Linked DNA regions of Homo sapiens. The protein of the gene in region 1 interacts with the protein of each later gene in a pairwise test. Each region holds a gene or a part of one and is shown on either strand. Other genes may lie near its edges.

Evidence for each region. Proteins that work in one complex are often made in the same cells at the same time.
Region 2: the proteins of ANKRD46 (region 1) and BIK interact in binary tests that used the Homo sapiens proteins (3 or more experiments, as listed by UniProt).
Region 3: the proteins of ANKRD46 (region 1) and SECTM1 interact in binary tests that used the Homo sapiens proteins (3 or more experiments, as listed by UniProt).

Annotation. Positions count from the first base shown.
Region 1 is NC_000008.11:100,528,638-100,536,096, forward strand, and holds part of ANKRD46 (ankyrin repeat domain-containing protein 46), read right to left. Parts: intron 4,675-7,459; 5' UTR 4,572-4,674; intron 3,824-4,571; exon of another isoform or gene 3,719-3,823; intron 1,224-3,718; 5' UTR 1,197-1,223; coding exon 886-1,196; intron 1-885.
Region 2 is NC_000022.11:43,113,459-43,120,917, forward strand, and holds part of BIK (bcl-2-interacting killer), read left to right. Parts: intron 1-7,459.
Region 3 is NC_000017.11:82,330,599-82,338,877, forward strand, and holds the start of SECTM1 (secreted and transmembrane protein 1 precursor), read right to left. Parts: upstream 3,169-8,279; 5' UTR 3,102-3,168; intron 1-3,101. UniProt on the Homo sapiens protein: May be involved in thymocyte signaling.

The DNA.
Region 1 (7,459 bases):
TTTTTTAAAAAAGTCTAAGAAAAAAATGTCAAATAAGCTGCTTCGGTTCACGCAGCTATTTAGCGCTAATAATAGGTTAGAACCCCAATCACATTAAATCCTGCAGTCAATTCCTACCCCATTTTGTCCTGCAGAAACAAAAGCATTTACTGTCTTATTCAGATTTAGGGGCATTATGGCATCAATAAATTAGGGCAGTGTGTAACTGTAATTTAAAGGTCAAGCTCAGTTTTACAGGTGACTTGACATCGTTCCCACTCAAAAAGCAGAGTATCACTAAAACAAACAAAAAGCCCCATGACTTCCTCAAATTGTTCAGTCTAAAAAGGATCCTGGACTCCCGGGAGATTATGAAGCTCACATGGTGCGTTACATGACAGAAGGCACACAAGCGTTAGAGTCAGCGGAACTAGGTTCAAATTCCAGCTCTGTCCCTTATAAGCTGTGACCTTTTCAAATCCTCTATAAACTGTGTGAACTTTGTCCAATCCTTTTTTGTCTTCACTATCTAATCTGTAAAATGAAAACACCTATTGTGAGAGCTCTTCATTCTGAGGACTAAATGAGCTAACAAGTAAACACAGTCTAGCTCATAGATTTTCAACAAATGTTCTTTTCTTCTTCTTCCCTTGTTGTAACACTACATAATTAGTAGCAGAAACTACCTACTATTTTCATAGAAAAAAATATGCTGCTTTAGCAAAAATCTAGAAGTCAGCCCCTCATTCCCTCACTTGCCTAACAGGATTACACTGTCTTCAATGCTTTCTGAACTTATTTCAACTGATTAATGAGGAAACAAAACCAACAGACCCAAGATAAGATTATCAGTTGAGAGATTAATGGGAAGAAATGACTAGACTTCTAAAACAACAGAGAACTTACCAAATATCAATTTTGAGTCCATTGGAAACCAAAAATTGGATAGTATCCACATGGCCACAGAGGTGAAGAGCTGTGTTTCCTTGATAATCTGTGGCCAGAAGATCGGCACCGAATTTATGCAGTAACTGGCAGATGTCTACATTCCCTCGAGCTGCTGCAAGGTGAAGGCCTGTTCTGCCCCTGCTGTCACGAATATTTGGGTCAAAGCCACTTTCCAAAAGCCGCTTGGAATAATTAAAGTCCCCATCAATACAGGCTTGCAGCAAGGGCACGTTAGTCTGAGAAGAATCATTTACAAAAACATACGACATTGTTCTGATGTGGTGGATGGAACACGCCTGTAATGAAATAGGTGAGTGAGATTCCATGAAGACAAATGAAATCAAGACAAAGGAGTCATTTAGAAAAGCAATATTTCTCATCCTTTTTGGCCTCCTGCCTCTAATAAATAAATGACCAAACAGAAACAACAACAAAGTTATCAATTGTATTTTATTTTCCATTAAAACATTTTATTTTCTTCACATCTGCTGGATTAAAATTCCAATTCAATTACTGTAAAGCTCTATTTTGCTTTTCACCATGTAAAAAGATTAAGAGATATTTTTAAAGTTAAGCAAGACATAATAGCTTAGATTTAAGTATTACATTGTCAGAACACATAGATAACATGGTGTTTAAACATCAAAGAACTACCCATATATAAATGCTACTGCTGGTAGACATTCTTATTTAATACAAACTAATTCTCTTTGATATATTTGCTTCTTCTTGTATTTGAGATATTCTACATGGTAACTAAAACTACTTGCATGAAAAGAACTTATACTCAACAAAGACCTGTAGAGTGTTATGTTTATAGCACAATTTTTTTTTTTTGAGATGGTGTCTCGCTCTATTGCCCAGGCTGGAGTGCAGTGGCGCGGTCTTGGCTCACTGCAACCTCCATCTCCCGAGTTCAAGCGATTCTCCTGCCTCAGCCTCCCAAGTAGCTGGAATTACAGGTGTCTGCCACCATGCTCAGCTAATTTTTTGTATTTTTAGTAGAGACGGGGTTTCACCATGTTGGCCAGGCTGGTCTTGAACTCCTGACCTCATGATCCGCCTGCCTTGGCCTTGCAAAAAGTGCTGGGACTACAGGCGTGAGCCACCGCGCCTGGCCTATAGCACAAATTTTAAGAGAAAGGCTAAGGAATGTAACAAACTGAATTTAAAAATCAGAGCATGAAATCAATTCAGATTATGCTTTTTCCACTATTGATCTTATTCTGCTGTGCTCTGTGGTTATCTCAATATGTGACTGTGCCAAATTCCCACCGTCCAAAGACTGAGAGATGAGGGGAAAAAAAAGTAGGGCTGTCTGGGAATACCAAGTCAGGACAAAGCAGCAATCCCAACTAGGTCTGATGTGAATTTCATCTCTTGGACTCATCCAGCTCACCAGTTTGCCCACATCTCTTTCACAGATGTTTCCTGGCCCCACTGGCGCACCTGAACTCAGGTGAGAGTTCAGCATCTGCCTGGTGCACCTGAACTCTCAGGACATTTTGCTCTACCAAACTGCATACAACTAGGTCTCTCTCTCTTCCCCTAGGTTCATTTAAGAAAGAGTTAAAGCCTGTCAAAAGAAACTTCGCTAGGAAATTGACGAGAAAACAAACAAGAAAACAGAAAGGCAGAGACCAATGCTTTTCTAGAGATGGCTTTTTTATTCTTAGGTTACAAAAGCTTAGTCACATATGGACTTGGCTTATACAGCTGATCAGGTAAAGTCTCTTTCTGAAACACTGATGGAACTGGACGCTAGACCCATCTATTCTTGTGCCTAACCTCAAGGGGATTCAGGGAAGCCTGGCTGCTGAGTTTGGTGAGATTGCTGCCCCTATTCCTTTCAACTTGGCTTCTCAGCAGAGCCATTGTCCCAAAATCTGGGGCTGCCTTACACAAGGGCTCTGCTGCTACCATGGGCTCTCTGTGGAAAGAGTGGGCATTAACATACACTGAGACTTGTTCTGAGCCAGGTACCAACTAGGAGCTTTTAATGAATTTAATTTAATCTTCCTAACAACTCCACAGTTAGGCTTTTTTATACCTGAATTTCAGTGAGGAGCCACTGAAGGATTTTTTTTGTTTTAAATTGAGACAGGTTCTTGCTCTGTCACCCAGGCTGGAGTGCGGTGGTACAATCATGGCTCACTGCAGCCTCAAACTCCTGGGTTCAAGCAATCCTCCCACATCAGCCTCCTAAATAGCTGGGACTACTATTTCAATGAGTCCAGCCCACTGAAGAATTTTAAGTCAAAGAAATGGCACAGTCTTATTAGTCTTTCAGAAAGATGACTTGGATGGCAATATGGAGGCACTGGATTGTAGAGACAAAGACTGGAGGCAGGGAGATCAATCATTAGGTCATTGCAGCTATCTAGGCAAGAAATGAAAACCTGACCTAAGGCAGTGGCAGGCAGAAGGGGACGCACTGGAGAGGAACAGAGAAGACAGAATTAGCACAACTTAATGACTCACTGGATATGAAATGAAGGGTGAAAAGGGGCTGTTAAGAATAATTTCAAATACGAAAAAAAGTTTATGATTAAAAACTACAGAGATTAAAATCAAAATAAACTTCAGATTATGATACATATGATGACTTTTTAAAAATCTGGCTGGACACAGTGGCTCACACCTGTAATCCCAGTACTTTGGAAGGCCAAAATGGGAGGATAGCTTGAAGCCCAGGAGTTCGAAACTAGCCTGGGCAACATAGCGAGAGACCCTGTCTCTATAAAATATTTTAAAATTAGCCAGGCATGGTGGCGCGCGCCTTTCGTCCCACCTGTTCGGGACGCTGAGGTGAGAGGATCACTTGAGCCCGGGAGGTCGAGGTTGCGATGAGCTGTGATTGAGCCACAGCACTCCAGCCTGGGCATCAAAGTGAGGCCTGTCTCAAAAAAACAAACCAAACCAAACCAAACCAAACCAACAAACAGAAAAACTCAATGAGAAGAATTTACTCAATAAAATAGTCAAGAATTCTTTTGCGAGGGTAATCTAAATATTTTCCCTTACAGCAAGGGTGTCCAACATTTCGGCTTCCCTGGGTCACAATGGAAGAAGAATTGTCTTGGGCTACACATAAAATACATAATGATAGCTGATAAGCTTTAAAAAATTGCAAAAAAAATCTCAGAATGTTTTTTAAAAGTTTATGAATTTGTGTTGGGCTACATTCAAAGCTGTTCTGGGCTGCAGGTTGGACAAGCTTGCACAGTATTGAATCATAAAAATGGAAAAGCTATCATAAACCTTTTTCAAAATGAAATGCCACATATCAAGTGCTTTTCAAAAGGTAATGTGTTTTGGTTAAATTTTTAAAAATAGATAATTTAAAAAATCTAGTTGGTGTTTTTGATTCAGACACAGTAAGAATTCTTGTGGTTTGCAGACTAGGATACTTCTGAGTGTTGGCTCAGCAAGAAATACAAGTCTCTGTGTCTATTTTTCAGGTGAGAACAAGTGTGTATTTTGTCAGTTTCTCTGTGTCCCTGAGCAACTACTAAACTTAATCCCACATTTAATAAGCCCAATGATAGTTATTTTTCATCTTGATCACAGAACTGAATCTGTCCTAAAGCAGTTCACTGAAGGTTTCACATCTTGTGAGGAAGTCCACAGTAGTAAATACTCACGTAAGCCTTAAGATTAGATCTTTTCGTTCAGTGGTCACTCAGCAGTTTCTCTGAATTCTCAAGAAGGTTCAACAAAAATATTCTGTAATGTGCTGGCAAGGATCTACAGTAAATAGAAAATTAAGTTATAATAGAAGTGTGGTGAGAAAAAGAACTCACTGTTCTATTAAATACAGACAGGTTACTGAGCCTGAAGAAATTCTCTAGAAAATCTGTAGGTGAGGCATCAACTTGTGAGGCCAGAAAAATATCTGACGAGTAACAAAGTAGTGAAAAGGAAGCAAAGAAGGGCTTAATAGAAGCTGCTCTGTGGCCCACAAACAAGAAAGCAAGACAGAAAGATAAAAGAATAAGAATCAAATTATGTGCCATCACTAAAGAACAAATTGGGCTCCGAAAATTCACTCTCAGTCATTACTTGGAATTCAGAATGCATATTTTTCACATTATAAATGGAGGCTAGATCCCAGATTAGTCCACAAAAGCATTTTTATAAATAAAATACTATTCATAGTGGGAAAAAATAAGTTTAAAAAGCCAATACTTATATTTAAACCAAACAGGATACATTTAAGAAAAAGTATTTCTAATCTACCTTGAATGCTGGTACTTAAATCTCTTTAAATCTGTTCCCTTCCTTGTCTTTTCAGTGTGAAATAAAAGCTGGCCCAAGTCTATCTGTAGTCTTCTTTACATAGCCTGACGCTGCTCCCCCACCCAGGCTGCACTTCTCTGCACTGAGAGAGACTACGAGGGCACCCTGTCTGCCCACTCAGCTCTTCTCTGGAAGGACCGTGGAAGCAGGGTCATGGGCAGGCAGTAAGGACCACAAAAATAGCAATATTAGTTCATGAAACAAACATTCACTGTGTGCCTGCAATGTGCCAGATACCATGCTATCAAGTCCAAATCCCAAATTCCTGGTCAGGGTGAAATACAGGTTAACTTTTTACCGATCATCCTTGTTCATTGTTATCAAATCCCTGTGAACAAATTTATATAGGGAAATAATTAATGGTATTTTACAAAGCTCCATTTACAATATGTAAGTCAGGTTGTATCATAAAGGCTATCAGTGCTAGGCTGGAACTGATGACAATAGCTGACAAACTGTACCTGAGGACCAGTCCCACACGAGGGTCAGTAAATATCACGAAGACATGATAACACACAAAACATCTACGCTCCTCATTTCCTACTTCTTTTGTGATACCACAGTATCAATTTAGACGAACTTCATATCACGGAGCCACTTACCTTGATTTCCTTAAACAAATATTATGTATTCACCCAAAGCCTAATATTTTTCCTCTCTTGTCCTGACCTCTAGAGCTGAGTCTTTAACGACTAGAGCCTGTCTCTAATGTATGATTTGGCTTTAATTTTCAATGTTAATTAAAATGGTGCAAGTGGGTTATTCTGGATGTGGTAGAGCTCACATTAGGGAAAAAGAAAAAATTTTGTTTTTCATCTAGAGATGGAATTATAGTTCATATGGTCATGCCCCCAAATAATCCTAATGTTCTCTTAAATCCACAAGAAGGACAATGCTTCTGCAATTTTTTCTTTTTTTATTTTTGAGACAGAGTCTCACTCTGTCGCTGGTGCCGGAGTGCAGTGGTGCAATCTCGACTCACCTGCAGAGGCCTCCGCGTTCAAGCAATTATCCTGCCTCAGCCTCCCCAGTAGCTGGGACTACAGCCATGTGCCACCATGCCTGGGTAATTTTTGTATTTTTAGTGGAGATGAGGTTTCACCATGTTGGCTAGGCAGGTCTTGAACTCCTGACCTCAGGTGATCCACCCACCTTGGCCTCCCAAAGTGCTGGGATTACAGGCGTGAGCCACCGCAACCAGCCTGCCATTTTCTTTGGATATTACAATGGCCCATAAGAAAATACACTTGAACAAATTACAGATTTGTATGATTTCATAATAATATTATACAAATTCATTAGACTAAATTACTAGAAACCTGCCAAGAAAACTTCCAAGACCTCAGTTAGACCTTACTCACTAGACTCTGTTAATAGCTTCCCTAAGAAGTCATAAAGTGAATACAAATCAGAGCACATATTTAACGATTGTCCAATGGGTGAAGAGGACTAAAGACTTTTTTAAATTAAACTTTTTGAGATAATTATAAATTCATATGCAGTTGTAAGAAATAACACAGAGTGATCCTGTGCACCCTTTATCCAGTTTCCCCCAATGGTAACATCTTGCCAAACTATAGTACAACATCACAACCAGGATACTGACATTGATATAGTCAAGATACAGAACATTTCCATCACCATGAAAAATCTCTCATATGTTGCCCTTTTTAGCTATTCCTGCTTCCCTCCCATGCCAGTCTCTCCTTAACACCTAGAAAACACTACCTAGTCTTCCACTTCTTTAATTCTGTCATTTCAAGAATGTTGTATAAATGGAGCCATACAGCACATACAGGAACCTTTTGGGATTGGTCTTTTCACTCAGTATAATTCTCTGGAGATTCATCCAGGGTAGCTGTGTGTATCCATAGTTTGTCCCTTTTTTATCCATAGTAGTATTCCGTGGCATGGGTGTACCACAATATAACAGTTCATCTACTGAAGGACATCTGGTGTCTCCAGTTTTTGGCCATTGTTAAAGCTTCTACAAACATTTGTTTGTATGTGACTGTAAATCTTCATTTCTCTAGGATAAATGGTCAGGAGAGCAACTAGTGAGTCGTATGAAGACCTGAAGATTGTGACTAAAAGACTGTTGAGCATGAAGATGTCTATTTCCCCCATTCAAGAAGAATGTAAGGTCATCTTTGGAGTCATGTGTCTCGGTGTCAGGTTATTTATGGAAGAACCTGTAGGACCAAGCATTTGCAAGGGCACAGGTGGATGTACT
Region 2 (7,459 bases), on another chromosome or scaffold:
GGAGAATTGCTTGAACCCAGGAGGCGGAGATTGCAGTGAGCAGAGATGGTGCCACTGCACTCAGCCTGGGCTAACGTGAGACTCCATCTCAAAAAAAAAAAAATTACGTCTTGTGTCACAGAGCTGCAGATAAACCAGAGACTACTCATAACCGTGTACTTTTTTTTTCCCCCATTTCTGATCCCGTCTCAACGGAAGGATGTAATTGAGGAAGGGCTTGATTGGCCAGTGAGTCTTGAAGCTGACACCACTGCTGGTGGTATTTTCCCCTCTCCCTGGAAAGCATCCTGTTTTTAGTGAACCTATTAAATGTGTAGACAATTAATGGCTTTTTGCTTCCCCTGCTGCAGACTTAGCGGATCCCATGAGATTTTGACTACCGTCTGTGCTCAGAACAGTTTGAGCCGTATGGAGGAAGTCTCCGCACCAGTCTTACTGTTGGTGGTCACCAGGAAGCCAGCAGTGTGTCTGAACTGGACACATGTGGCCACTTCCTAGCCTCCCTTTGTCCTGCCACTGGTTGGTTGGGGCTGGGCCCTGGGAGAAACATAGAATGTGAGCAAATCAGTCCGTGGCCCCTAAGTTCCTTGTTGGCCCCGAGGCAGGCAGGAGAGGGGCGGGCACACAGGGCAGCTGATTTTCCTAGTGTCAATATTAGGATGTGACAATACAAAACACCACTGGGCCTCGCCAGGCACTGCATGGTAAACCTGTTTTTCTGGGGGTGGGACAGAACTTGGCACCCAGTTAGCCAAACTGAAAAGCCATGCAGCAAAGAGAGAAAAGCTCACTTGTTTATTTGAGTGAGGGTCCCTGTCATTTTGGATATTTAAGATCAAGTATTCTTGACCGCCCCCTCCCCGAGATGGAGTCTTGCTCTGTTGCCCAGGCTGGAGTGCAGTGGTGTGATCTCAGCTCACTGCAACCTCTGCCTCCCGGGTTCAGGTGATTCTCCTGCCTCAGCCTCCCGAGTAGCTGAGATTACAGGCGCGTGCCACCACACCAGGCTAATTTTTGTATTTTTAATAGAGATGGGGTTTCACCACGTTGGCCAGGTTGGTCTTGAACTCCTGACCTTGTGATCCGCCCGCCTCAGCCTCCCAAAGTGCTGGGATTACAGGTGCGAGCCACCGTGCCTGGCCAAGAGATGACATTTATTGTGTGTGACAGTATCTTCGAGATTAGAGGCTCCCTTTCATGTGAGGGCAAAGAGAGCTACCTGATTCCAGGAGGAGCTGAAATTCCCTGTGCAGACAATGGCGCATCATGAAGATAAATCCGAGCTCGGACCGTGAGGTGGTCAGCACGGGTGTGCGCCTCGCAGAGCAACAGGCTCACAGAATGAGAGCTGCCTCTTAGTGGGCACTTACTGCATACCATGCATGCAGCATTTCACCTCCTTCTCAGGGCTACATCTGCCCATGGGGCTTTCCCTCCTGCCCTTTAACAGAAGGTGATACTGTCCAGTCCAGGGTCTCCCAGCCAGGAACAGCCTGCCATCGTGAGCCCAGCACCAGAGTAACCCCTTCCCTCATTCTCAGGATTTTGCAGTGAACTCTCAGGCTGTCTGCATCCTCTCACCGGCTTTCACTGGGTCCCTGCTCTGTTCTGGGGCCATGCAGGTTCCCGACTGGCTGGGGCAGACACACAGGTAAACATTTAACGAGACCTTGATGGGCTGAGTGCCCAATCCAGGTCTGTTTACCCAAGGTGCTGGGACAACACAGATGAGGAGCATTTAATTCTGTCCTGGGGAGGGTGGGGAGGAAGTGACTTGTGCCTGAGCCCCAAGGAAGCAGTGAGTCCCCCGTGCCTGCCTGGGGGATGTTGGTAACAGAGGGAGGATGTAAAGGAGGAGCTGGGGTGTGAAAGGGCTGGGTGCAAGTTCATAGGGGAGACCCAAACACTGAAGTGGAGCCCAGGGGCCGTACCTGCCTCTCAAGCCTCAGGGTCGGGGCCAGGGTGAGCAGTCTTCATATTCTTCAGCCTCAGCATTTCAGAACTTGTTTTATTTTTTTTTTGAGATGGAGCCTTACTCCTGTCGCGGGGGCTGGAGTGCAGTGGCGCGATCTCGGCTCACTGCAACCTCCACCTCCTGGGTTCAAGTGATTCTCCTTCCTCAGCCTCCCTAGTAGCTGGGATTACAGGCGTGCGCCACCACGCCTGGCTAGTTTTTGTATTTTTAGTAGAGATGAGGTTTCGCCATGTTGGCCAGGATGGTTGTGAACTCCTGACCTCAGTTGATCCACCTGCCTCAACCTCCCAAAGTGCTAGGATTATAGGTGTGAGCCACCGCGTCTGGCCTATTTTTTATTTTTGATTGAGTCTTGCTCTGTTGCCCAGGTTAGAGTGCGGTGGCACGATCTTGGCTCACTGCAACCTCTGCCTCTCAGGTTTAAGTGATTCTCCTGCCTTAGTCTCCCGAGTAGCTTGGACTACAGGTGCCCGCCACCACGCCCGGCTAACTTTGGTATTTTTAGTAGAGACACTGTTTCACCATGTTGACCGGGGGGTCTTGAACTCCTGACCTTAGTTGATCCATCTGCCTTGACCTCCCAAAGTGCTGGGATTACAGGAGGGAGCCACCGCGCCCCGGCCCAGAACTTGTTTTAAATATGAACTTTTGAAACTTAACAACTGTAGGCCCAGGTGGTGGCTTGGCATTCTCTGCTTCCTTCATGGTGATAAAAAGGCACAGGCTTCCCCTTTTTGGGGTCATTTCAAAATCAGTCAAGAGAATTATTAGTCTGTTAGACTTCCTCTACGGTTAGGATTATTTTTATAGGTGTTCGAACAGGAAAGGACATAGAATAAAATCTCCTCCCCTAACTTATTGATACAGGGTCTCACTCTGTCGCCCAGGCTGGAGTGCAGTGGCGCAGTCACAGCTCACTGCAGCCTCAACCTCCTGGGCTCAAGTGATCCTTTCGCCTTGTGCTCTTAAAGTGCTGGGAGCCTCCAAAAGGCTAAGCTGTGACGTTGGGTAGGTTACATGTATTAAATGCATTTTTTTTTTTTTGAGACAGTTTTGTTCTTGTCACCCAGGCTGGAGTGTAATGGCATAATCTCGGCTCACTACAACCTCTGCCTCCCAGGTTCAAGTGATTCTCCTGCCTCAGCCTCCCGAGTAGCTGGGATTACAGGCGCCCACCCCCACGCCCGGCTAATTTTTGTATTTTTAGTAGAGACAGAGTTTCACCGTGTTAGCCAGAATGGTTTCGATCTCCTGACCTCGTGATCCGCCCGCCTCGGCCTCCCAAAGTGCTGGGATTACAGGCGTAAGCCACCGTGCCCGGCCTGGTGAAACCCCGTCTTTACTAAAAATACAAAATTAGCCAGGTGTGGTGGCGTGCACCTGTAGTCCCAGGTACTTGGGAAGTTGAGGTGGAAAGATCACCTGAGCCCAGGGAGGTGGAGACTACAGTGAGCCATGTTCATGCCACTGCACTCCAGCCTGGGTGACAGAGAGACCCTGTCTCAAAATAGTAATACTCCATATTGGGCCTCTCACAGGGGAATCTTGGGGGGAGCTGCAGCTCAGGGTGACTCCCATCTTGTCACTAGCCAGGTGACCCCTTCATTCTGGAGCCTTAGCTCTGAAAGCCGCAGGTGGGGGTGCCGTTTCAGATGCCCCTTTTCCATTTCAAAGGCTCTGATTCTAGATCTTGAAGCCGGATGCGGCACTGGCACTTGGCTTCAGTTTCCACTGTGACGGACGGAGGTCTCCCAGGCCCAGCCCAGGCAGCCAAGCCCATCCTGGAATCAGAACACGCTGAGCACATTTTGTAGGGTGGCACCTTTTTATCCAAGTTACTAGCTACACATCAGTGTTTAAAGAGAAAAAAGTGAGCTGTCTTTTTTTTTTCTTGAAACTTGAGGAAACAAGGTACATACTACGGATTTTTTTTTTTCTTTTTCTTTTTTTTTTTTGAGACAGTCTCACTCTGTCGCCCAGACCGGAGTGTGGTGGCATGATCTCGGCTTACTGAAAGCTCTGCCTCCAGGGTTCAAGCCATTCTCCTGCCTCAGCCTCCCGAGTAGCTGGGACTACAGGCGCCCGCCACCACGCCCAGCTAATTTTTTTTGTATTTTTAGTAGAGACAGGGTTTCACTGTGTTAGCCAGGATGCTCTCCATCTCCTGACCTTGTGATCTGCACGCCTCAACCTCCCAAAGTGCTGGGATTACAGGCGTGAGCCACCGCGCCCGGCCCATATTTTTTTTTTTTGAGATGGAGTTTTTCGCTCTTGTCGCCCAGGTTGGAGTGTAATGGTGTGATCTCGGCTCACTGCAAACTCCTCCTCCCAGGTTCAAGCGATTCTCCTGCCTCAGCCACCCGAGTAGCTGGATTACAGGCGCGCACCACCACACCTGGCTAATTTTTTTTGAAACGGGGTAGAGACGGAGTTTTATTACCATGTTAGTCAGGCTGGTCTTGAACTCCTGACCTCATGATCTGCCCACCTTGGCCTCCCAAAGTGCTGGGATTACAGGTGTAAGCCACCGCGGCTGGCCCATTTCATATATTTTTAAAATTTTTTATTGTTAATTTATTTTTAGAGAGGGGGTCTCGTTGTATTGCCCAGGCTGGTCTTGAACTGGGCTCGTGCGACGTGCCCGCCTCGGCCTCCCGAAGGGCTGTGATGACAGCACAGCGGTGCCTGTGATCTATGGCTTCAATTTTTCAAGGCTGCCAGGTCCATGCAGGGGTGTGTGTGGGATGCATCCCTAGAAATCAAAGGTCATGTGCGTGTGTGACTGGTGGATGCTGATGGTCACACTACCCTCCAGAAAGGCAGCAACATGTTCAGTCCACCGTGGCGTCCTGAGCTGTGAGTGGCCTCTGGTCTCCTCTCTTCTAAGGCTGTTGATTGTGTTAACCAGCTTTTATGGAGCCCCTGCTAGGTGGTGGAAAATGGGCAGTAGTGTATGTTTTCATCCTCTCAGCAGCCCTGGAGGCCCGGCTGTTTCTGCAAGGCTCAGAGGTGAGCTGGTTGTTCTGCCTCACACAGCAGGGGCCGAGCAGGGGGTGGAACTGAGGTCCAGCCTGGCTGCAGGCTCAGGGCGTTTCCTGCTGGGTTACACTGGAGTTGTGTGCGCTCCAAGGGCTTTGTGCCACCCCACCCTCATGGTCCAGGGCCAGGCTGTGACTGGGAGGGTGGCACGTGGAAGACTGGACCAGGGTTTTCTAGCTGGGCCCACTCAGCTGGCCCTCCCTGTGACCCCAGCGTGGCCCCTGACCCTCTCGGTTTGCCTGCCTGTGAAACAGGAAGTGTCAGATCCCGCCTGCTTGGCTTTGACAGGACTGGGCGAGGTCATGAGAGTCTGAGGGTCCCTACCAGGAGTTCGACCTCATCCTCAGGTCCAGCCCCATCCACCTCTGCCCCCAACCCCGCTCTGACACTCCTGCAGCCTCGGCCCTCGAACACCTGCTGAGGGCTGAGCAGAACACATCTCTACTTGCTTGTGCTTCTGGGCAACCTGGGAGGGGCTTGGGAGGTAGATGGCGTTTCCCCATCTTCCAGATGAGCCATAGGCGAGCTGTCGAGTGCAGAGCTGTTCACCAAATGTAGGCTGCTCTGTCCAGAACCTGCCCTCCCTCCCACTCGGAGCCCTGCAGGTGCCCTCAAGGCCGTGGGTGTGGTACTCTTTTCTGCACATACTAGATTTGCATCCTAACCTCTTAGGGTAAAATAGGGCTTCTGACTGGCGCCTGGTGTTTCCACTGGTGAGTGTGTAGGAGGCTAAGTGCGGGCTGTAGCCTGGGTGGGGACACATGGCTAGGTGTGTCTTCCTTCACCAAAGAAGGGTTTCAACTACTCATTTGCAAGTTTGCTGGAAAAAAAAAGATAATAAAAACCAGTCCAGTTTCCTGTATCTGCAGCTGCAGTGACCTCACAGTGGGTCCTCTGGGAATAGGTTGCCTTCATGTCTTCAGTCAACAAACATATGTCTGCTCTATGCCAGGCCTTGGGCTGACAACCAGAAACTGATAAGAGCAGCAGCCCCTCTCTTAGCGGTTTACTCTGTGCCGGATCATTTCATCCCCACAACAGTCCTGTGCAATAGGTGTTACTAGTATCTCCATTCTAATTTTTTTTTTTTCTGATATGGAGTCTTGCCCTGTAGCCCAGCCTGGAGTGCAGTGGTCAGCTGGAGCCAGAGGGGAGCAGAGACAGGGGCTGCAGGACCCCCAGGAGGCCCCCAAGCAGACTCTGAGGGTCCAAGAAGGTGATGCCCGAATAGGCCAGCCTCATACCCATCCTCTCAGTACTTTGGGAGGCCCAGGCGGGAGTTGAAGCCAGGAGTTCCGAGACAAGCCTGGGCAACAAAGCAAGACCCTATCTCTACAGCAATTCTATAAAAATGAGCCAAGTGCAGTGGTACATACCTGTCGAGTTACCCTGGAGGCTGAGGTGGGATGATTACCTGAGCCCAGGAGTTTGAGGCTGTAGTGAGCATGATCAGGCCACTGCACTCCAGCCTGGGCAAACGGGTGAGACCCTGTCTGTGAAAAAAATAATAATAAAATTTAATTTTTAAAAAAGGACCAATAGGCGTAGGCATGGGCCGGTCTGAGGTTGGCTGGTGAGCTCTGCACATTTGAAGACTTTGGAGGCATGGCAGGACCAGGCACCATCCATGGAAAGCATACTTGAGTGTGGTTAGCGCGGGAACCAAGATTGGGGTGGCAGGGCCACAGGGGGAGGGCCTGTTAGTGGATGTGGCACAACCCCCCACTTGTTTTTGAGACAAGTCTTGCTCTGTCACCCAGGTTGGAGTGCAATGGCGCGGTCTCGGCTCACTGCATATTCTGCCTCCTGGATTCAAGTGATTCTCCTGCCTCAGCCTCCCAAGTAGCTGGGATTATAGGCGAGCGCCACCACACCTGGTTAATTTTTGTATTTTTAGTGGAGATGGCGTTTCACCATGTTAGCCAGGCTAGTCTCAAACTCCTAAGCTCAGGTGATCCACCTGCCTCCACCTCTCAAAGTGCTGGGATTACAGGCGTGAGCCGCACTGCACCAGGCCAGGTCTAGGGAGCCGAACAGAGCAGTGACAGGGTCAGGGTTGAGGCTGCTACCTTGAGATTAGGTTGGAGAGAGCTCCACTGAAGGCTGGAGACCAGTAAGGCATTCAGAGCTGGTGCCAGGTAGGAGCTGACAGGACTGGGCCTCCCTTGGGCTGGTGGGGTGGCCAGGAGAGACCAGAGCAGGAGGTCGCTGCTGCAAGGACCCTCCTGGGCAGGCTCCCCACCTTCCGCTCCCTGGCTCCACACTTTTCCCATGCAGATCTGGGCCCTAAGGCCAGCCTAGGCCCAGTTGGTGATGGGATCTTTGCCATTCATATCAAGTCAATCTGAGGGCCTGGGCCCAGAGGCCAGATGGTTAAAGGTTCAGATTAGGTCCCTTCTTTGTGGTAGAGGGTAATGGGTATTTAATAAATTAATCCAAAGTGCT
Region 3 (8,279 bases), on another chromosome or scaffold:
TGGCAGTGGCTGCATCTGCCTCCCCTCCACCCTGAGTGTCCCAAGTCTGCCCGCTGTGCATTCCATGGGGCCAGCAGCTCGGTGGAGCCTCTGCTCTCGGGGGCTACAGCTGCTCCTAGATGCCTCTGCCACCGAGGGTGGACCCTGCAGTGCTGGCTCCTAGCCTCCCTGCCGATTGCTTCCTGAAGACCTGGGGCCCTGGGCTGCAGTGGTTGGGGAGAGGGGGGTGGGAGTGAGAAGCTGGCACTGTCCGTCTTTCTGGCCTCATCCTCTCCATGGTCTCAGCCCCTGGCGGCCTGGACTGCACCGTTCCGGAGATGCTGCCTCCCCACCAAGTCCCTTTAGCCCAACTGTGGTGGCGGCCGCTGCTTCTCACACGCGGGTCCTCTCACTGCCTCTCCCCGGTCCTCCCTTCCTCCCAGCACCTTCACCAGCTCCCCACTGAGTGCCCTCCAATGTTGGCGACCCTGACCCTTGTCCAGCCAGGGGTGAAGGGCGGCAAGGGATGGGCTGGAGGGTACTAGGAGCAGGTGGCGGTGCCCTTCCTGTCGGTCCACACCCGGCAAGTGGCGGGAAAGGTGTGGAATGAGTCAGCCGTGGAGGGGAGCCCTGGGCCTGGAAGACCCCTGTCTTTGGCTTGAGAATGACTTTGAAGGGCTCAGGGGGTAGGGAGCTGGGGGGAGACCGGGAGGAGAGCGGCAGGTCTGGCTCTACCCCGAGGCTTCAGGCTGCGGACCATGCGTGGCCCCAGCTCTGTCTGGGCAGCAGGTGTCAGCGACTTTGGGTTGCTGTGGGAATTTGCTCCGTTTATCAGAAGAAAACGCACCCTGGCAACACAGGCCCCTCTCAGGTCACCAGGCACATCTGGTCACATCTGAGTCTCAGATAAACAACCAATGATGTCCTGGTGAAAGCTTGTCCCGTGGGACACTCGGGACACACTTATATTAAAACACGATTAACGATCTCAAACTCAGATGTTACTGGGTATCCTGCGTTTTTGTTGGCAGCTCTGCCACTCTGCCCGTCTGCCTGAGTCCTCTCCTGCCATCCTCCTGACCAGAGGCGTGGGCTTGAGTTGAATGCCACGCAGTGGCTAAAAATCAGAGAGAGGGCAGGCGGCAGGGCGCGGCCCCAGGGAAAGTGGCCAGGTGGGCGGTGACTGGCCGGGCAGCTCCGTGTGTGGCACAGGGAGACCTGGCACAGGGAGACCAGGTACAGGGAGACGAGGCGCACGGAGCCTCAAAACTTCTAGAGTGGGCCGGGCGCGGTGGCGCATGCCTGCAATCCCAGCACTTTGGGAGGCTGAGGCAGGTGGATCACCTGAGGTCGGGAGTTTGAGACCAGTCTGAACAACGTGGTGAAACCCCGTCTCTACTAAAAATACAAAAAAATTAGCCGGGCGTGGTGGTGCACGCCTGTAATCCCAGTTACTTGGGAGGCTGAGGCAGGAGAATCGCTTGAACCAGGGAGGTGGAGGTTGTGGTGAGCCAAGATCTGGCCACTACATTCCAGCCTGGGCAACAAGAGCGAAACTCCGTCTCAAACCAAACAAAACAAAAAACAAACTTCTAGAGCGGGAAAAGATGGAGGCGGCAATCAGATTTCTCTCAAACCACGAACACAGGGGTCGGTATCTGAGGCGCCGGCACCAGACACGGCAGGGTCTGAGTGCTCCCTGACAAGCGATGATGCGCAGGCTTGGAGCCATGCCAGTGACACGCCTAGGAAAGTTCACGCACCGCCCAGCACGCCTGCGCATGCCTGTTCCCGCTCCCTGGTGCCCCGGGCGCCTGCCTGTCCCGGCTCCCATGGGTGCTGGGTGTGTGGAAGCTCCGGCCCCCTCGGGCTGGGTTCATTGGGGTCCTCCTGTGTGGTCAGTGGACTCTGTACCCCCACAGCACCTGAGGGGTGGCTGACACTGCTTTCCCAGCTGCTGCAGGGGCTCAGGGAACACAGGTGACCCCACGTCTCTACCGAGAATGAGCACACCAACACCTCTCAGAAGACAGCTGCAGCCTGCAGAGGCCATGGACCCCACCCAGGCCCACGGTGTGGACGGCTCTGCCCTGGTCTCTGCTGAGCCAGGCCCAGAGGGGACCCCAGGTGAGCAGCAAAGCCCCCCAGGCCTGGGGCTAGACCGGGCTAACCCTTCCTGCTCAGCACCTGTTCACCTGTCCCCTCTGCTGGTGGCCTCCTGTCCTCCCGCTCTGGGCTCAGCAGCAGCCCCGTGGAGAGGCCCTGCCACCACCCCCGCCCTGCTGGAGACAGGCCTCCTACGCGGGCTCCTGCAGCCGGTCGCCCTGGGCCTCCTAGAAGCCGGGGATCCTCTGCTGACCACCGGCAGAAAACGTGCTTCTCAAGCTGCAGGTGATTCACCAGTAGTGGGCAAGGAACTGAATGTGGTGATTACTGCGGAGTCAGCAAAACCCGCGTGAGAACGGGCAGCTGAGGGCCTGCCGGGTGAGGGAAGCCTCACGGTTCCTGTTTCATGAGTTTGCTGTGAGTGCACACGAGGCTGTGGCTGTGGAGTGTGCAACAGTCCACGCGTGCCTGCGTGTGCTCATGTGCGTGTGTCCACCAGCTTGTGTGCACGCATATGAGCGAGTGCGTTTTGCTCCCAGCTTGGTCGCAGCGACGGCGCAGGGAACCCCGGGTGAGGCCGAGGACCGGGAAGGGAGGAGGGGGCTCCGACCCATCGGACTTAGGGGAGCCCCGGGTCCGAGACGCCGCCTCTGTCCCTTCAAGAGTCGAGCCTGGCGCACAGGGCAGGGACGCGGGTCCCCACACCGGCCGGCAGCTCGTTCCCGCCCATACTCGGGTACGCCCGCTGCGACCCCGCCCGCCTGGCCTGCGACGCACGCTCAGGGCCAGCGGGGGGTGACGGTCCCAGAGGCAGAGGCGCCGCAGCCCCAGAGTCCCCATCCCTGCGCGGACCGGCAACCCCAGTGCACCAAGAGGCCCTAACACCGAGCCCCCAGCACCGAGTCCCCAGCACCGGGCCCTCAGCACCGAGTCCCCAGCACCGAGTCCCCAGCACCGAGTCCCCAGCACCGAGCCCGCCCCTCTGGTTCCCCCGCCCGCCCCTCTCCGCGCCTCACCGGGTCCGCTCCTGGACGCGCTCCTCTGGGATGCAGCTTCTCCGCGCCCCGGAGCCCCAGGAAAATGAAAGACACGAGAGGGAGGGGCCAGGGAGGAGGCGGCGGACCCGCGCGGGACCCACCTCCCAGATGAGGAAGGAGCTGGGTTTACGGGAAGCCTCCAAGTTTCGGGAACCACCCGCGTTCACAACAAGCGTGACGGTGAATTTATTATTTTCACGGGAGGCACCGCACCCGCGGTTCACGCTAAAGGAAGCAGGAAAGCCGCCGGGAGCATTTTTCCAGGAGAGTTCGTGCCTGGGCGGGTCCAGCTCGCGTGCGGCGCGCGTTCCCCGCGGGGCTGTTTGGCTCCGCTCCTGGAGGCCTCGAGTCTGTGCACGGGGCGAGCTGGGCGGGCCGAGTGGGCCGCGGGGAGGGAGGGCGGGGGGCGGCCCCCAGATGCCTGGGAGTGCGCGGGCAGAGTGAGCTGGACCCCCGGAGGGTCAGAGGCCCTTTCATAAAAGCGCGCAGAGCAGAGGAGTGATGTCCCCCAGCTCCCCCGCAGAGGGTCCTGCACCTGCGGCCTGGGCCTTCAGGCGTCCTGCGGCCCCTGCGGAGGTGCTGGCCTGGCCAGCCCGGGAGGAGGGGCCCAGCCTGTTGGGGCAGGAGATTGGGGTGCGGGTAGAAGGCTCCAAGACGCATCCGGGCCGGGAACCCACAGACATCCCAGGTGGGCAGGAGGTGGCTCGAGGAGGCCTGGAGGACCCGGCGCCTGGCGGGGTGGCAGGCGGGCCACGTCCTCCACTAGAACCCGAGGGGGCACGCGGGCAGGTGCGGGCGGGGTCAAGGATGACCAGGTATCTTCGGGACACTAGGAGGAGGCCCCACAGGCTGCAGTCACGTGAGTGGGCAAGTCCCCACCGGGCAGATGATGGGGGACACTGGGGCGTGGGCAATGCCCCCAGTTTCATGGAAGAGAGGAAGAAGCAGAACCAAACTCCGGGAAACCCTCAAATGTGGGGAATGGACGGAGCAGGGCCAGACTGGACGCTGAACCTTGGAGCCTGCAGCTCAGCCATCAGACCCAGGGTCCAGAGGTGGGTGGCACAGAACAAAGTCCCCCGGGATGTTCCAAAAGAGAAACTGTCGCCAAATTGGCAGGTGAAACACAGCCTGTCATCCTCCCAGCAAGACGGCACCATGGCCGGGGCACAGAGGTCAGATTCCCCAGCCCCCGCCCTCGGGGAAACCCCAGCCACCCTGGCTGCCAGTGAGATGCTGGAGAGGGGGCTGAAATCCCACCTGCCCACGTCCTCTGCACAGAGGGGCTTGTCCCCGAGGCCACATCCCCCAGCAGCCACAGCTTCCTTCTCCTTTTTTCCTGCCTACTAGATCTCTCAACTCAGAGGGGGCTGCAGTTCCTGGGGGCAGGGGGGTCCGGCTGCTTAGGCAGGAGCACCTGCACCGTGAGGCTCTGGAGGGCAGCTGAAGGCTGGCAGGCTTTTGTCCCGTGAGGGGACACCACTGGGGGTTGGAGGAAAACGCATATCCTGATAAAGCATTTCATGTTGTGAAAGTGAAACTAGTTTGTTTATTTTGGAAGTAATACAGGCACAGAAACAAAATAGAATGAAACCAACTGTTGCCTTTTCCTCCCCACCCTGGCTTCAATTCCCAGGTTGAGTTATGGACACTGCCTTACCTATCCTTCTAGAAGTTTTCCTGGTCCATACAAACAGCACAGCCATCCACTCACGTTTATTTCTTTCTTTTTTTTGAGACGGAGTCTCTGTTGCCCAGGCTGGAGTGCAGTGCTGCAGTCTCGATCACTGCAACCTCTGCCTCCCAGGTTCAACTGATTCTCCCACCTCAGCCTTCTGAGTAGTTGGGATTGCAGGCATGTATCACCACGCCCAGCTAATTTTTGTAGTTTTAGTAGAAATAGGATTTCATCATGTTGGCCAAGCTGGTCTCGAACTCCTGACCTCAGGTGGTCCGCCTGCCTTGGCCTCCCAAAGTGCTGGGGTTACAGGTGTGAGCCACCACATCTGGGCAGTATCTTTCCATTTCTTTTTTTTGTTTTGAGACGGAGTCTCGCTCTGTCGCCCAGGCTGGAGTGCAGTGGCGCAATCTCGGCTCACTGCAAGCTCTGCCTCCTGGGTTCACACCATTCTCCTGCCTCAGCCTCCTGAGTAGCTGGGACTACAGGCGCCCGCCACCACGCCCAGCTAATTTTTCTGTATTTTTAGTAGAGACGGGGTTTCACCGTGTTAGCCAGGATGGTCTGGATCTCCTGACCTTGTGATCCGCCCATCTTGGCCTCCCAAAGTGCTGGATTACAGGCGTGAGCCACTGCACCCGGCCGTATCTTTCCATTTCTATACAATGCTGGGATCAGGCATCTTAGAGCGGATGTGTGGATTCATTCACCCTCAGCCTGTCCTTGAATCACAGCCTCTGCTGTGCCAGGTGACATGTGGAGTTTCATTTCCTTTCTGTTCGAGGAATTTGTAGATTTCAGTTATGATTTTCTGTTTAACTCTCCAAATTATTCGGCAGCATATTCTTAAAATCCCCAAGGTCCTGGAGCATTTGCTTTTCTTTTTTTTGGAGACAGAGTCTTGCTCTGTCGCCCAGGCTGGAGTGCAGTGGTGCGATTTCGGCTCACTGCAACCTCCGCCTCCCTAGTTCAAGCGATTCTCCTACCTCAGCCTCCTGAGTAGCTGGAACTACAGGCACGTGCCGCCACGCCCAGCTTTTATTTATTTATTTATTTTATTTTTGGTAGAGACGGGTTTCACTATGTTAGCCAGGCTTTTTTTTTCTTGAACTCCTGAGCTCAGGCAATCCACCCGCCTCGGCCTCCCAAAGTGCTGGGATTACAGGCGTGAGCCACTGTGCTGGCGGCATTTGCTTTTCTTTGTAACTTGATTCTCTGGGTTCCCTTGCCTTTCATCCTTGCCCACCCACGTGACTGCAGCCTGTGGGGCTTCCTCCTAATGTCCCGAAGATAACTCGTCATCCTTGACCCCGCCGCCACCTCGGGTTCTAGTGGAGGATGTGGCCCGCCTGCCACCCCCACAGGCACCGGGTCCTCCAGGCCTCCTTGACCCACTTCCAACCCACCTGGGATGTCTGCGCGTTACCAGCCCAGATGCCTCTTGGAGCCTTCCACCTGCACCCCATCTCCTGTCCCAACAGGCTGGGCCCCTCCTCCCGGGCTGGCCAAGCCAGTACCTCCGCAGGGGCCGCAGGTGCAGCACCCTCTGTGGGGGAGCTAGGGGGATCGCTCCTCTGCTCTGCGCACTTTTATGAAAGGGCCTCTGACCCTCCCACTGTCCTGCTCACTCTGCCCGCGCACCCCCGGCCACCTGGGGGCCGCCCCCCAAAGCCCTCGGCCCGTGGACAGACTCGCAGCCTCCTGGGAGCCGAGCCAACCGGCCCCACAGATTTGTGCATGACTCAGTTGTACCCACTGCTCACTGGCTGGAAGGGTCTCACGGGTCCTTCCAACATGTAATATTCTCTGACTGTTGGGAGCAAGGGTCTCTGCAGGTGTCCCTCCTGTCAAGGTGTCAGTGGGGTAGGTTAGGTCTTTTATATACTTGTCAATTTTTTTTTTTTAAGACGGAGTCTCGCTCTGTCGCCCAGGCTGGAGTGCAGTGGCACGATCTCAGCTCACTGCAAGCTCCGCCTCTCGGGTTCACGCCATTCTCCTGCCTCAGCCTCCCCAGCAGCTGGGACTACAGGCGCCCGCCACCACGCCCAGCTAATTTTTTGTATTTTTATATACTTGTCAATTTGTATGGGCTTGAGCTATCAGTAATTAAGAGAGATAGGTTGGAATGGCCTCCTATGGTGGGGGCTTAGCAGCCTCTTCTTGTGGTTCTAGGAATTTTTAATCATATATTTGGAGGCTTTTTTTTTTTAAGAGATGGGGTCTCCTGTAGTTGACCAGGCTGGCTTGCAGTGGCTGTTCACTGGCAGGATCGTAGCTCAATGTACCCTGACCTTCTGGGCTCAAGCGATCCTCCAGCCTCAGCTTTCTGAGTAGCTGGCACCACAGGCAGGCACCACAGATAAAAAGTCTAAAATGTTTGCTTCAGTCTTTGTCGTTTTGTTGCTCTTGTTCTTGTCTTGTGCTAACCTAATTCTAATTTATCTATTTTATAATATTCGGAAGTTTTAAAATATGAGGCTAATTTTAAATTCTTACCCAGCATGTGTTTCTGCTTTTGGTGGAATCCACAACCCAGCTTGTTATTTTCCACCTGAAAAGGCTGTGCTCCTCGAACATCCAGTTATGTTGCCCTGAGCCCCTTCACTTGCCAATCTTCTTGGTATTTCTTTTGGGATTTCACTGTCTTTATAGCTTCACTTTATTTTAATTCTATTTATTTATTTATTTGGGGGGGATGGAGTCTCACTATGTTGCCCAGGCTGGAGTGCAATGGCACGATCTCACCTCACGCAACCTCCACCACCCGGGTTCAAGTAATTCTCCTGCCTCAATCTCCCTAGTAGCTGAGATTAGAGGCGTGCACCTGGCTAATTTTTGTATTTTTAGTAGAGACGGGGTTTTGCCGTGTTGGCCAGGCTGGTCTCTAACTCCTGACCTCATAATCTACCCACCTTGGCCTCCCAAAGTGCTGGGATTACAGGCGTGAGCCACCGTGCCCAGCTGTTATAGCTTAATTTTAGAAAGAATGGCATTTTTAGGGCTGGGTGCGATGGCTCATGCCTGTAATCCTAGCACTCTGGGAGGCTGAAGTGAGACAATCTCTTGAGGCCAGGAATTTGAGACCAGCTTGGACAACACAGTGAGACCCATCTTCACAAAAATAAAATAATGAGCCGGGCGTGGTGGCCAGTGCCTGTAGCCCCAGCTACTTGGGAGGCTGAGGTAGGAGGATCTCTTGAGCCTGGGAGGTCGAGGCTGCATTGAACCGAGATCAGGCCACTGCACTGTAGCCTGAGCAACAGAGCGAGACCCTGCCTCAAAGAGAGAGAGAGAGAGAGAGAAAGAGAGAAAGAGAAAATACTTTTAATAGTAATCCTTCCTAGCCAATGAGATAGGAATGCTGGGTGGTCATAGGAGAAATGAGAAATATCAAACAGTAATCTTGCAGAAAAGCAAGAAAGCAGCTGTTAGAATGAGCCACAGAAAGCAACTGTTAGAATGAGCCACGGAAAGCAGCT